Homo sapiens: one gene and its partners. The protein of the gene in region 4 purifies or fractionates together with the protein of the main gene of each other region. This does not show direct contact. Each region holds a gene or a part of one and is shown on either strand. Other genes may lie near its edges.

Region 1 (3,872 bases), on a different chromosome or scaffold from region 4:
AACTTTGCCCTCAATTGTAATATGTAAAATACTGGTATTGACAGGAAGCTATACCAATAATACCTTGGTTAAGAGGCTTCATGGATACTAATGTTTCTAATTCTCTCTTTAGTGTTCCACGTTACACTATAACAATAATAATAGTAGCTAGCGTTTATATAGTGCTTACTTTGTGCTAGGCATTATTTTAAGTGACTTGCACATAATCTAATCCTTATAGCAACATACGAGGTTAGTGTACTGTTACTTTCCTCCATTGTATGGACAGAGTTATTTTGCTCATAGTTACACAGCTAGCTAGTGAGTGATGGAATTCTCTGGCTCTGGATTTATGCATTTAACCATAATGCATAATCCTGCAGAGCTATCAAAGATGGGTGAGAATTAAGTCATTTGATTCCAAAATGAGAGAAAAAATTATCAAAGAGGAGGTGATATTCTCATGCAAAGCAGTTTTAGGAAGAATACATAAGAAAGTTGAGTATCTGGAAATTGATTCAAAGTATAAGCACCTTCATTTAGAATGTCTTCAGGTATCCTGAGGGCAGTGCTCCTCAGTTTGTGGCTACTTTTTATAGTAATTATGTTTCCAGTTTAAATTCCCATTTGTGATTTTATTCCTCTTTCTACATTGTTTATAAAGACTTCTCATGATTTCAACGTAATTTCTAGTGTTTCATGAAATTGATTGCTAATTCATTCAGGAAATTTCAGTCTAAGTAGGGTATGCTCTTTCATAGTAGAGATGATAAAGGGAGGAAGATTTCTACACAGTTTCAGGCCCTAGAAAGTATTTTCTGTATTAATATCGTCAACTTAGAAGGGGAAGAAAAGATAAGCTAGGATTGCCAACAGGAAAAATTATTTTTGTTCTAACTGTTGCATTATCTCAAGGAGCATATAATAGTATGGCCTCTAAAATGTGACAGACCTGGATTCAAATCCAACACTTTTAAAAGAAGTCCTTCCAAGTATACCCAGCTCTGCTATCTCCACCGTGTTCCTGGCTGAACTTAATCTCTGAGCTTTAGTTTTCTGATCTGTAAAATAGGTATAATTAAACTTAGACTTAAAAGATTAAAATATATAATGTAAATATAAATGGATTTATACAGAGTATATGTTTATTAAATGGCTACAATTAGCTGTTACCTCAAAGAAAGCATGGGGCATTCATCAAAGGTTATGATTGCCTCAGATCATTCACACATTTGGCTGTACTATGGAGCTTGCCTAGTTCCAATAATTTTAAAATGCATTTGTTCTGTTTGAGGGTTCTGAGAAGCTTTGCTAAAATATCATCTGAAAAAAATTGTGTATAATCTGTGTGCTTAAAAACTACATTGCCGTGTCACATAGCAAGTTTTCTAAAAACCTACAAAGTAATGCTGATCAATAGTGAAAAAAGGATAATTAATTTTTATTTACAAATATATGATTCAGACTTATAATTTATAATATGACTTTATACTTTTCATGTTTTCCTTAGTTCCTTTGTATAACATAGGGGAGAAGAAAAGGTAACATACATCATTTTTCTACAGATCTCTTCAACATGTTAGAAAATAATAGGTGATTTACTCATTTATTCATTGACCTTGAAACTTTTAGAATATGTCATAGATGCAACTTTAGAAAGTATGTGTCTTAAGATTAATAGCTAGTACATTTGTATACAACCAGGTTGCCTCTTTCAGGAAAAAAGTATAATTCAAATTTATTATTACAACAGATATCTTCTTTTTTTCTTCCCCAGAAAAATTATGGAAATCCTTTTTTGAATATGGGACTTTAAATTAGTTCAGCTTTTGTTCACTGTATTCCAAAAATTTTATATATGCCACTTACAGAGTTATTAATCTTTTAAATTAGGGAGTGAAGCCATAATTTCAGCTGCGTTCTGCTTCCGTAGCTAAACGGAAAGATGCTCAACTTACGTGTTGAACTGTATGACCCTGGGCCAGTTTTTTAAATCACTTTGAGTCTCAGTTTTCTTATCTGTACCTACCTCACAGAAGAATTAAGTAAGCAGATATTGTAAAGTATTTAGTTCAGTGTCTTGCCCATGGGAATAACAGAGGTTATATTAACTAAATCATCCATATTAATTGTTATTATTTTAATGATTGTGAGGTTAAACAAAATAGTTCATATGAATCCTCTAAGACAGTGCCTGGTATGATATGTGCTCCATTATATATTAGGTTTGTTCTCAAATGTGTATACTTTCATATGTTTATACACCTTTTAAAAAGGTATTCATTGTGTTAATGGGTTCAATATCCATAAAAAAAAGTATGGCAAATAGTGACTAACTTTTAAGAAATGATGTAGCTAATGTATTTTTTTCTTTAGCTTCCAGAGCAGTTGTAGCGCAGCATGTTGCTCCACCTCCAGGAATAGTGGAAATAGATAGTGAGAAGTTTGCTTGTCAGTGGTAAGTGGTTTATTTCTATTAAGGATTTATCCTTGGGAGGAGTAAAGCAAAGAAAAAAAGGAAATGTATTCTACAGACATCCAGAATGTTTTGTTCTGTATTCCTTTTTAGTTAGAGTAGAATATCATTTACACAAAGAAAGGACACTTTAAAATCCCCTTGTATATTGGAATAATTTGAAAGAAAAATATTCATCAGAATTTTCAGAATTAAAATAGTATGACTAGAATGTCATTAAATTACACCATTTAACTTTTTTCAGAGTAAAATTTGTGTTAAAAAGTTATCTTTCACTTTGTAGAAAGTACAGTTTGTCAGGTTACAAAATTTGTTCTTCTAAAATTAACATTTTGTTAAAACTGAATTGGACTGACCTTAAGAAAATAAAAGCAGGTGTTTTAAAATGTCTCTTCTCTTCCATCTAAAACAAAACTTCTTATTCTTTAATAATTTTTGGGTTTGTAATAGTAGACGGACATTAATCAAATGATAGAACAGAAATAAGCAGCTTGACAATAATATTTCCTTGAAAAGATTGTGTAGTCCTATCTGCACCACTTTCTGAAAAAAAGCAAATGAAGAGTTTTAAAAATTTCACTTGTTATGGATAGTTGCCTCAACATTAGTATGAAGTTCGGCTTAAATTCTTTAGAAGATTAACAGATTGAATTACACAATCACTTTCCAATGATATATCACTTTAAAAATTTCTTGATCACTTTTCTGCCATTCACTAACATTATTTGTCTCCCATTTCATGCTCCTGTCACTCTTTGTTCCGTATTTTTGGTGCTTTCAATACATTTTTGTTCCTATGACAGTTTTCTCCAGACTTTTCTACTTTGCTTAAATCGGGTTTATGGTTTTAAATATCTCTAATTGTTTGCTTTTTCCTCACCTTCTATATTTTTACACATTGGCCCCTTACACTTGAATCTTTTCCAGTAATATTTGGAAATGTTGTTTGTCTTCTACATTGCAACCAAAATGAAGTTTTTATATCTAGTCTTTTTGAAATTTCAGTACAGACAGGATTATGAAAGTTGGAAAGAATACACACCATAACCACTATAAAATGTGTATGTGTTAAGCATAGATTTGGTCTTATAAATCCCAGTTGCACGTTTCTGCTATTTCTTGGAGAGGGGGAAGAGAATCATTTTACAGTTTTTTTTTTAAATCATAATTACTATTTGATTTAGTTTTTCAGAAAAACTAAGTTTAGCCTATTATACATAGTGAGTTATGGAAAGAGCCTATCAGGGTAATCAGGCCTCCAATCCCAATTTATAGGTAAAGGTCATTTTAAGAAAAAGACAAAATGAGGTTTGAATTAGTTTGTAATGGATTACAAATTAAAACTGTTTTGAAATGGGGAAATGGGAGTGTGCAGCATGGAAAGTGTCATTGTTTTAGGAAGTAGCTGAAAAGCTTG
Region 2 (3,872 bases), on a different chromosome or scaffold from region 4:
CATTACCTGGAGACTTGTTGGAAGTGGAAACCCTTAAGCCAGAAACCCAAACCTTCAGAATAGAAAATTCTAGGGGTTGGAACAAACAGTTTTAATAAGTTCTACAGATGTATTTCATGTACTTAAGTTTGCAAAATACTGATATATATGAGAGCAGAAACTGCAAAATCACAGTACTAATAAATCATATTAAAAAGATACAGCAAAAATCATAAAAGTGATGCATAAATAGCTGAAGTTTGAAAACTACTGTGCTAAAGCAAAACTGCTATCATCACAGTAAATCTTTATGTTGAAAAAAATAAAAAACTACCCTGCAGAAAATAAAGAAAATTTGACTCTGCTATCACAACACTTATTTCCTTCTAGCCAAATCACTGTGAAACAGGTAACCTTTACTATATAAAGCTTATCTTAAGCAAAGAATCAACATTTAAAAATATACTGGCTTCCATTATCTGGTATGCAAATGTATCTAACATTCATGAAAATGGCAAGGGCATTCTAAAATAGTCAAAACGATGATGTTTATTTGAACTTCACTTCATTTTAAGGAATCTTTGAAACAGCCTTCTTTCTCCTCCTTCTCAGTCTCACTTGTGGAATGCTCCTTCTTTTCCTAACCTCTAAATGGTAGAGGGCCACTGAACTCAGTAATTGGCTCTCTTCTCTTTCCTGTCAACAGTTACTCCTTAGGTGAACTGATCCTATCCAGTCTCACGGCTTGAAATCCCACATGGATGCTGATCGCTCCCAAATTTGTGTCAATACCCCTAACCTATTCTCTGAACACTAGACTCAACATATCTAACTATCCATTCCATATCTCCTCTTACATGTCTCATGGGCACTTTAACCTACATGCCTTATATACAGACCTCACATTTTTCAACTCTCTGTTCAAATGTAACTTCTTCAGAGAAGGCTTCCATGACTATCCCACGTAAAACAACTTCTCCCTCACTGTCCATCCCATAACTTTTTAAATTTTTCATGGCACTCATCACCTACTGCTACATAAATTACTTATCTGTTTTAGGTAAGCTCTAAAAGAGTAGAGTCCTTGTTCAGTTTCACCCTCTGCATACAGAACACACTTAATAAATATTTATGAAAGGGAGACAATACTGTGAAAGGATATATGTTTGAAAGATAAAAGTATAAAGGGGCTTTTTACCAACGAGTAATACAAATGATGAAAAGATACTTACTTTTCCTTTTTTTCTTGTTTGTGGGCCTCTCTCGTAATTTGAGCTGCTTTTCTACTATATGGATGGATGACTTTTTTTTCCCGTCCTGCACTTTTTCCCTTTGGTGCTTTGGGCTAAAATGTATGAAAACACATGACACATATAGTCAGATATGTAAGTGCCTTCAGTCCCAAAAATATTCTTTACAAATAAATTTTAAAAACAGTAATATGACAGAAATACAGTAAGCTAAAACTATTACAAGAAAAATCAGGAGATAAGCCAGGATCATTAAATAATTCTAATAATCTGTTGCCATGGTAATGACAGAAACGATATATTCAGAGGTGCTCTCCAATGACAGAAGAAAGGCACAGAAGGAGTCAATAAACTCAGCTCTTCAACAACATGTTCTATCTTCAAAGAAGATACAGGGACTACAGATAGTGAGGAGACTCACAGCCAGAAATTTGTTACAGTTAAGAAAATTAAGGGGTCAGAAGGGACTTGGATTATTAGTAGGGGCTTGATTGTAGATGTTTCACATGGAACAAAGCGGGCAATGAATCATGCAAAATCAAAGCTGGGCTCATTGCCTGTACAAATTAGGAATAGAGAAAATAATAGAAGCCATCTCAAAATTAGTATATCCAAAAGGAAAAATGTATCATTTTCCCACTGAAGCCTTATGCCAGTTAATCAGCCCACAATTCATTAGGTCCTCCAAACTAGACATCTCAGGTTTCTTTTATTCCTACATAATCCTGTATCTTACCTCACCTATAATGATCTAGGAATCATATTTGGCTCTCTGTAATAAAAACCCCAAATAATGGCATAACCCAGCTTAAGTTTGGTTCTTTATTGTTAAAAGTAGGAGCTGAAGGTTCTGTTCCACAAAGCCCTTAGGGATCCAGGATCCTTCCATTTTTTTGTCTACTAGCCTCAGGCTATACCTCCTATCTAGTTCAAGACAGCCTAATACCAGGTCTACACTCAAGCCAGTATGAAGTAGGAAAAGAAAAATCTGAAGGTACATCCCCTTTTTTTAAGAGCATGACCTGGGAAGTTGCAGATCCTTTTGCTCACATCCCACTGACCAAAATTTATTCACAGTGTTACATAAGGGAGAGTAGTAAATATAATCCTTATTCTGTGAGAAAAAGATCCATTCATATAGAAAAACAGAAAGAATACATTAGGGGACAGCTGGCAGTCTCCAACATACCTATTCCAGAAAAAGGCCAAGTGGCTTTACACTCTTCTTCAAAATTATTGTCAATTGCTTAATTCAATCCTCAGAATCTTTCATAATCAGGATAGTCTTTAGATTCTCCCCACTAGTCCTTTCTTCGGCAAAGCTACAGAGCTTGTCTTCATAAAACACTAATATAGTAAAGTCCCTCTCCCCTGCTTAAAGTGCTCTACTAGCTCACAGTTAGGTCCCAAGTCTTTAGCACAGAAACAATCTAGCCCCAACCTGCTTCTCCACCATTATTTCCCATGCTCCTCTATAAAAGATTCTTCACGCCATTCTTACTGAACTTCTCACCATTCCAGAACATACCAAGCTATTTCATAACTTCTTGAGACTGCACTTGTTATTACCTCTGCCTGCAAAATACTTTACTTGCCCTTTGATAAGATGCAGTTCAAAATTACTTCCTTTGTAAAACTAGGCAGAACTATTTAAAATAACCACAAATTCCTCATTCACAAATATATTCATTCTTTCAACACTCATTGAGCGCTCTGCTCGCTTTCTGATAAACCTGAGAAGATATATCCACATCTGAATCTTAAGGTATCACTGGAAGTTGGTTACAGGTATAGGAAAATATGTAGAACCATCATATAAGAGTATATGTACTCTTTTATGTATCTCTCTGCTCACATGGCAAGTGCAGAGGAGAAAGGCAGGTGTAATGAGGAATTTTTGAGATTAAAGTACCTAGCAAACATGAATCAAGTAAAAACTTTCAGGACATTTGGCAGGCTGCCTCTAAGATGGACCCAATAAACCCCACCTCCTGATCCTCATGCCCTTATGGAATCCCCTCCTTTTGAATGTGGGCTGGACCTACCGACTCACTTTTAATGAAGAGCATTTAGCAAAAGCAATGAAATGCCAATTCTGAGATTAGGTTATCAAAGAAGTCTGGCTTCCATCTTTCCCCCTCTCATGGAAACCAGCTGTCCTGTAGTGAGCTGCCATATGGAGGGGCCACATGACAAATAACTGAGGGAGGCCTCCAGACAACAGCTAGTGAAGAAGTGAGGCCTGCAGTTCAACAGTCCACGAGGAGCTGAATCCTACCAAGAACCAGCTTAACAATCCTACCAACAGCAAGCTTAGAGGCAGATCCTCAGCCAAGCATGGTGGCTCATGCCTGTAATCCCAGCACTCTGGGAGGCTGAGGCAGGTGGAATCACTTGTGGCCTGGAGTTCAAGTCCAGCCTGGCCAACATAGCAAAACTCCATCTCTACTAAAAATATAAAAATGTGCTGGGTGTGGTGACACATGCCTGTAATCCCATCTATTCAAGAGGCTGAGGTGGGAGGATAGCTTGAACTACGGAGGTGGAGACTGCAGCGAGCATAGATGGCACCACTGCACTCTAGCCTGGGCAACAGGGTCAGACTCTGCCTCAAAACAAAACAACAACAAAAAGAAGTAGACT
Region 3 (3,872 bases), on a different chromosome or scaffold from region 4:
TTAGATGTTCCCAAGTGCTTGAAAGTCATGGCTGTGCTTGTGGTTGATTGCGGGTGGCTGTGAAAGCTTAAAGACTTAAGGAGTGAATGAGTGGAAGTAGAGGCAATTCCTCTTTTTTGGAAGGTAAGTAGAAGGAAGGTGAAAGATGCCATTTTGTTAGGAATCCCTGGGGAGTTTCCTTGAATCCGTCTCTTCGTTTCCATTCTCACTTCTGTCACTCCTAACCAGATTTGTTTCCCTCTTTCCTAGACTGATATTAAACCCCCCTAGCTTATTTCCCTGTGTCTGCCTTTATCCTCATTTCTTTTCTTTTTTGTACTAGGAACTCCTATGGCAGTCCAGTGAAGGCCATAGACTCCTCAGAATGAGGCTTTTAAAGGAATAAATGAAAATACAGAGGATATGTCCTAGCAAGTTCAAGGATCCTTTTAATTCTATCCATGGACCACTTGGGAGTTCATGGAACCCCATCAAGAACCCTTGCAAGAATAAGATGGGGATAGTGTGGGGTGAGAAAGTGGGGAGAGCACGCAGCAGCCAGGAAGAATTCTTGGGGGGGAACACGCATAGGCTGAATTGATTACCCGCCTGGGTCACAGTGCCTAGTACTTGGGATTCACAACGGTACCGTTAACCACTGAGCTGTGCTGCCTGGGCCAAGCTCAGGAATCATTCATTTCTTTGAGTTCTTTTATTTTCTTAGTCTTAAGAGCTGTTCTTCTTGGATGGACAGAGTATTAGCTGTTAACATGGGAGAAAACTACTTGAAAACCAGTTTTTCCCTTCATAGAAAGAAAATCATTGTTAATGTTCAGAGCATGTAGGGAGAGAACCAGTACATAATTTATTTAAGAAAAATGTTGTAGGGAGTTTTAAAACAGTAACTTACCTAAAGCTAAGCCTCACAATTCTAAATCTTTATAGTTTTTCAGCTACCTGGGCACAGTGATTAAGAGCTCTGGAGTCCTTGTTCGGTTGGCTATGTGACCTTGAACAAGTTATTTTGCCTCTCAGTTCCTTGATTATAAAAGGAGGTAATAATGGTACCTACTTTGGAAGTTTGTTATATGGATTAAATCAATTCATACTTGTAAGATGCCTAAATAGTTGCTGGCACATGGTAAGTTCTTAATGTGCTAGCTGTCATTATTACTATCCTTTAAAATAGAGACAGGGTCTTGCTGTATTGGCCAGGCTGGTCTCAAACTTCTGACCTCAAGCAATCCTCTCACCTCAGCCTCCCAAAGTGCTGGAAATAGAGCCTTGAGCCACCATGCCTATCCTATTTTTTTTTTTAATATCTTAAATGCTAAGAGGTAGCAAATTATCAGATTGTATGCTAAATCAATGGTTACTTTATCCTGTTTTGTAGTAGAACATCATCGTTGTTCTTGGCATCCTTGTGTATTTTTGAGTTATGAATTATCATTTTAGAATTACCCTTGTGCCCTTGCTTTGCTTTCTGTATCTATTTTGTTATGTTCTTTCTTGTATTTTTCACACTTCCACTAGCGATTAGGTTCTTTGAAGTGTCAGAAATCTAATTCACATCCATTAGTTGCAAGTTATGTCAGCTATTGACTTGATATTTCACCTTGTCTTTAAATATGGAGACACTGCAAGATGCTTCAGATGCAAAATGAATATATTGTGGACCTTGCTCTCAAATTGTGCATAACTACAGGGGACACAGACGTAAAATAAATATATGTGTAAATAACTACAGTGTCCAGAATGCTAGGGGTGGAAGGTATTAAATAGACCGTGCAGAACATTGAGCAAAGGCATGACGTCGGTGAAGGGCTTAGACATGAGGCAGTTTGGGAGAAGAGCATTTCAGGCGGAGGGGTCAGCTGGTGCAAAGGCCGTGAGGCTGGTGTTTGCTTGGCTTGTTATGGCAACTGCAGGAAAGCTGGCATGGCTGGAGCACAGCAAGAGGGGGATATAGTGGTAGGAGATCTGCCAAGGTGCTAACCAGGACTGGATCATGATTACTTCTGCCTGGGGGACTTGGAGAATCCTTGAGAGGAGGTAACAATGAGGAGGACCTTGAGGATTAGATAGAATCTCCCAGCTGCAGAAGATGGGTGATATGGTTTGGCTGTGTCCCCACTCAAATCTAATCTTGAATTGTACCCATAATCCCCAGGTGTTGTGGGTGGATCAGCTGGAGATAATTGAATCATGGGGGCAGTTTTCCCCATCGTATTCTCGTGATAGTTAGTTCTCACGAGACCTAATGATTTTAAATAAGGAGCTTCTCCTTTTGCTGGGTGTTCATTCTTCTGCTTGCTGCTGCCATGTGAAGAAGGATGTGTTTGCTTCCCCTTCTGCCATGATCGTAAGTTTCTTGAGGTCTCCCCAGCCCTGCAGAACTGAGTCAGTTAAACCTCTTTCCTTTATAAATTACCCAGTCTTGGGTATTTCTTCACAGCAGCGTGAGAACAGACTAATACAATGGGGAAAGGCATATGCAGCTGAGGGTCCGACAGCGGGCAAAACCAAGCAGAGCGGAGAATGTGAGTAGTTGGCTTTGGGTGTGGCCACAGTGGCAGAACCCAGTAACATGTTAGAAATGCAGAGCTTGGGCCTCTGCAGACCTGCTGGAGCAGAATGTACATTTTAACAAGACATGTTGATCGTCAGCATATTTAAGTCTGAGAAACACCCATCAGGGTAAATCTTTGGTTTCAAGCCCTGAGATTCCTTAGATGTGCCTCAGGGGCTGGTGGGAGGGGGCCAAGCTGGTGGGGGAATTTAGGCCTACCTCAGTTTCCTCCAGAACAGCCTTGTTTTTGTCCTCATTGTCATCTCTCTGTCCTTTTTTTTTTTTTTTTTTTTTTTTTTTTTTTTTTTTAACTGGGGTACTGAATATAATACGTAAAGGGGGTAAAAAAGATCCTGCAGCCAAGAAAATTGAAAACCACAGAGGAACATAAAGGGAGTGTCAGGAGATGGTTGAAAGAGTAGTTTGAGGCCACCTTTGAAGGGCCAAGTGGTTGATGTTTGCCAGAGAAAAGCCAGCAGTTCTGACCAGGGTTACTTTAAAATTTGCCACAAATCTCAAATGACACTCGACCCGGAAGTGTTACTGCCTCCTTTAATATGTTCTCCACTCTCTGAAGTCATTTCTTCCTTTTCACTTCTCCTTGAACTTCACCTAGTGTCCTGTCCCCCACTTCCCCCACCCCGTCCTTCCCTCAGCATATAACCTCATTTAGAAAGCATTGAACAAATAGAAGCCGTCAGCTTCCACTCTTCCCACCATCCCATCTAAATTTTGGACAGCTGGGTCCGTCAGTCTACAGACATGCTGGAGGGGCTGCCCTGCCTGGTTTTGTAGCTGCTAGCTATATATGGCAATTTAAATTTCAGCTAATAAAACTTAAAATTCAGTTTCTCATATCAAGTGCTCACTAGCCACATGTGGTTAGTGGTTACTGGATTGAACAGTGCAGATATAGACGATTCCCACCATTGCAGTGTCTTCCACTGACATGGCTCACCATTCCGGGGCCGCCCATCTTGAAAGCAAAATAAACTACAGTAACAGCAGAAGCTCTCCTTCACCCTTAGTCTCTCATTTTAGTGTCTTCTCGTGTTTTCTGTTCCTTTTTTTTTTTTTTTTTTTTCAGATGAGGTCTTGCTTTTTGGCCTGGGCTGGAGTGCATGGTGCAATCATGGCTCACTGCTGCCTCAAACTCCTGGTCTCAAGCAGTCCTGCTTCAGACTCCCTAAGTGCTGGGATTATACATGTGAGCTACCACACCTGCCCTGTTCCTTTTCATAGCAGGAGTGAAAAGCCTTGTCTAAAGCTGAGGTCTCCTATTTCTATAGAGACACCGTACCTGGCAACCGTCAACTTACCTGCG
Region 4 (3,872 bases):
TTTTTTTATCAGAAATGCTTTCTTTTTATTTTGGAGACCAAGTCTTGCTCTGTCACCCAGGCTGGAGTGCAAATGGCGTAATCTCAGTTCACTGCAACCTCCGCCTCCTGGGTTCAAGCAATTCTCCCGCTTCAGCCTCCTGAGTAGCTGGGATTACAGATGTGTGCCACCATACCCAGCTAATTTTTGTATTTTTAGTAGAGACGGGGTTTCACCATGTTGGCCAGGCTGGTCTCCAACTCCTGACCTCAGGTGATCCACCAGCCTTGGCCTCCCAAAGTGCTGGGATTACAGGAGTGAGCCACCGTGCCAGCCCAGAAATGCTTTCTTATATGTTTCGAATCATTTTATAGGCAACTTATCTAAGCCCATCACCACTAACAGGTAAATACATACAGTTCCTGGGACGGGCATTCTAATAACCTAGTGACATAATGATAGTTATAAACTCCATATAGATTTTTAAAATTGCTTTTCAAATTCACAGTCCATTTTTTCCTGAAGCAAAACTGATGACATAGGTTTTAGGTATTTAATATTCAATAATATTTTATTTGTGATGGGAAAATTGAATTGCTATATTATGCAATTATTCTCAAATTTAATATTTCAAAACAGCTCATTTTATATAAAGCTAACATGGCAGAATGAATTATATATTAATAGCATTTATCATATTAAGTATTAGCAAAGTAAGTATTGAGCCACAGATGGCAAATGACCAAGACATTACCATAGATATTAATTCATCTTTGTTCTGGAGACTAGTGCAGTACAATTCTTTTTTTTTTTTTTTTAGTGCAGTACAATTCTTAAAAGACAGTCCCTGAAATACAATCCTATAACCTCCCATCATAAACCATGATCGTAAAGGAGAACATATGTTTCCCATTAGAACAATGGAATAATTGGAAGTTCTGTTTCTGACAAAGCACTCAAAATCAACTAAATTTGAGCTAGATCAATGTGATAAAAGCCAGAAATCAATAAATATAAAGCTTTAATACTTTAAATTATAAAATTATTCTTTCAAGGTCCACAATGAGTATAAACACACTATATATAAAAATGATACAAGCCCCCCGCCCATTGTTCTATAGACGTACACATCGAATCCCAAATTCAAATTAATTGTAGCACAAATCTGAAGTTATAATAATGCTGCCAGTTACAGTAAAAGAAAAGTTGTCTTGAAAAGTATGAATTTAGATCTCTATTAAGTGTCACAGTGCTAAAACATGGCCAAAATTATTCTACTTTATATAGTTTGCAGTGACTTCTCCCTACCACTAGATGGTACTGTCAGCTTCAGAAATCCAGGGAATAAAATGGGAGCTATCTACATAATCAGTATATATTAATCATCCTTCTTAATTATCTCAAATATCCTGTCTCAGTGTGCTCATACTTGTATTCATCAGATCATGAGTCTCAATTCTCAGCTTAACATACAGCATAACATAGTCTCAATCCTCAGCTTAACTTGGATTGTTTGAAATAGGGATGGATACCCCATTCTCCATGATGTACTTATTTCACATTGTGTGCCTGTATCAAAATATCTCATGTACCCCATAAATACACACCTACTCTGTACTCACAAAAATTAAAAATAGATTAAGAAAAAAACCATATAGGGCCACTACAGTCTTAAAGAGAATGAAATAAATGCACTGTTAAAATCTGAAATAATGGAAGGTGGAAAAGCGTACTCAATCTTTCACAAAGGATTTTCCAATTCAATTCTAGAATTCAGTGAGGAGAAAACAGAAGAAAAGCACTACTAAGGTTTTTTCCGTCATATTTTATCACCTCAAAAAAATTATTATTTATCCAGCATGTTTACCTTAAAGACTAGATTTTGCTAACGACTGTATTTTTAACCAACACTTTAAAGTATCTGGACTAATCTCGAGTCCAGAAGTGGAAACTATATTGTTTTGTATTATAAAAGCCAAGATCTAGAGATCAAAAAGGGCCACCAATTTTAACATGCGAATACCAATAATTAGGTAAATCTTCATAAAAGAAACAGCTTCCTAAAACAACAGTGCTCAAACCATTATAATTCTAAGCAACATATTCTCAAAAGCGAACAAAAATTTTAAAGATCTCTAATCTAAATGAAGGGATAGAACAATCGCAGATTACATCTAAGCCATTTTATATTGCTAGTAAAAGTATCAAAACCATCTGTTTGAAAAGGTTTGAAACAAGTCAGAACTCAGTATCAGAGTTTTCGCATACTTTTTACAGACCAAGTTCAACTTGGCTAACTATATATAAACATGACTAACCTGGTTTTATATAAATTTAAGTAGAAACAAACTATTAAATAATTTTTAAAGTTTGTATTTTAAATTTGGTTACTTATTAACACATTGGCATTTTTTAAAGTACTACAGATGTGAATAAAAATATAACAGAAAGCCTGGTGATCACAAAATGTACTACTATTACCAAGCTCACATCATTTATAATATGACAGTATCAAGGATCCCATTTATCATCCTTAAAGAAACACGCAGCTGGCCGAGCACAGTGGCTCACGCCTGTAATCCCAGCACTTTGGGAGGCCGAGGTGAGTGGATCACCTGAGGTCAGGAGTTCCAGACCAGCCTGGCCAACATGGTGAAATCCCGTCTCTACTAAACATACAAAAATTAGCCAAGCGTAGTGGCGGGTGCTTGTAATCCCAGCTACTCAGGAGGCCGAGGCAGGAGAATCGCTTGAACCCAGGAGGCAGAGGTTGCAGTGAGCCGAGATTGTGCCACTGCACTCTGGGCAACAGAGCGAGATTCCGTCTCAAAAAAAAAAAAGAAAAAGAAAACAGAAAAGAAACGAGGCCGGGCGCAGTGGCTCACGCCTGTAATCCCAGCACTTTGGGAGGCCAAGGCAGGCGGATCACGAGGTCAAGAGATCAAGACCATCCTGGCTAACACGGTGAAACCCCATCTCTACTAAAAATACAAAAAATTAGCCAGGCGTGGTGGCGGGCACCTGTAGTCCCAGCTACTCGGGAGGCTGAGGCAGAGAATGATGTGAACCCGGGAGGCGGAGCTTGCAGTGAGCCAAGATCACGCCACTGCACTCCAGCCTGGGCAACACAGCGAGACTCTGTCTCACAAAAAAAAAAAAACACAAAGAAATGAAACACGCAGCCACCAGCATAATTTCTTACTAAAGATAGATTTTCAGCATATACTTTACAAGGACTTTGGGGTAAAAGTTTTCTTAAAAGTTCAGATCTTGGTCGGGCACGATGGCTCACGCCTGTAATCCCAGCACTTTGGGAGGCTGAGGCAGGTGGATCACGAGGTCAAGAGTTCAAGACCAGCCTGGCCAACACAGTGAAACCCCATCTCTATTAAAAATACAAAAATTAGCTGGGCATTGCAGTGCACGTCTGTAATCCCAGCTACTCAGGAGGCTGAGGCAGGAAAATTGCTCGAACCTGAAAGGTAGAGGTTGCAGTAAGCTGTGATCACACCACTGTACTCCAGCCTGGGCGACAGAGCAAGACTTCGTTTCAGGAAAAAAAAAAAAAAAGAAGTTCAGATCTTTTTCACTATGCACATTAGTTTATCCTAACACTTTTCTCAATTCTTCTAAATGTACTGAATGTTGAGATATGTCTTATGGTTAAAATTAATATAGTATAATTCACTAATCTGTACTCAAATTTCTTCTTGAAACTGAAAAGTGGCTGAAACGTGGCTAAATGATGTACCTTCGGAGTTATGTGCAGTTTTCTTGTGTTTTCGGCAATAGACCCTATAAAAAATGAAGAAATCAAAAATTAGTAAGCAAACTAAATTAAACTCACTTTTCAAATTAAGAAAACGAGCAGTACACTTCACCCAATTCACTAG

Evidence for each region. Proteins that work in one complex are often made in the same cells at the same time.
Region 1: the proteins of PHF6 (region 4) and ARID2 purify together in Homo sapiens (affinity purification with western blotting, with the first as the bait; one study listed by BioGRID). This does not show direct contact.
Region 2: the proteins of PHF6 (region 4) and TMA16 purify together in Homo sapiens (affinity purification with mass spectrometry, with the first as the bait; one large-scale study listed by BioGRID). This does not show direct contact.
Region 3: the proteins of PHF6 (region 4) and PIP4K2A purify together in Homo sapiens (affinity purification with mass spectrometry, with the first as the bait; one large-scale study listed by BioGRID). This does not show direct contact.

Annotation. Positions count from the first base shown.
Region 1 is NC_000012.12:45,844,501-45,848,372, forward strand, and holds part of ARID2 (AT-rich interactive domain-containing protein 2), read left to right. Parts: intron 1-931; exon of another isoform or gene 932-1,040; intron 1,041-2,355; coding exon 2,356-2,437; intron 2,438-3,872. UniProt on the Homo sapiens protein: Involved in transcriptional activation and repression of select genes by chromatin remodeling (alteration of DNA-nucleosome topology). Required for the stability of the SWI/SNF chromatin remodeling complex SWI/SNF-B (PBAF).
Region 2 is NC_000004.12:163,504,485-163,508,356, reverse strand, and holds part of TMA16 (translation machinery-associated protein 16), read right to left. Parts: intron 1,325-3,872; coding exon 1,212-1,324; intron 1-1,211. UniProt on the Homo sapiens protein: Involved in the biogenesis of the 60S ribosomal subunit in the nucleus.
Region 3 is NC_000010.11:22,704,412-22,708,283, reverse strand, and holds part of PIP4K2A (phosphatidylinositol 5-phosphate 4-kinase type-2 alpha), read left to right. Parts: intron 1-2,858; exon of another isoform or gene 2,859-3,872. UniProt on the Homo sapiens protein: Catalyzes the phosphorylation of phosphatidylinositol 5-phosphate (PtdIns5P) on the fourth hydroxyl of the myo-inositol ring, to form phosphatidylinositol 4,5-bisphosphate (PtdIns(4,5)P2). Has both ATP- and GTP-dependent kinase activities.
Region 4 is NC_000023.11:134,393,811-134,397,682, reverse strand, and holds part of PHF6 (PHD finger protein 6), read right to left. Parts: intron 3,775-3,872; coding exon 3,731-3,774; intron 1-3,730.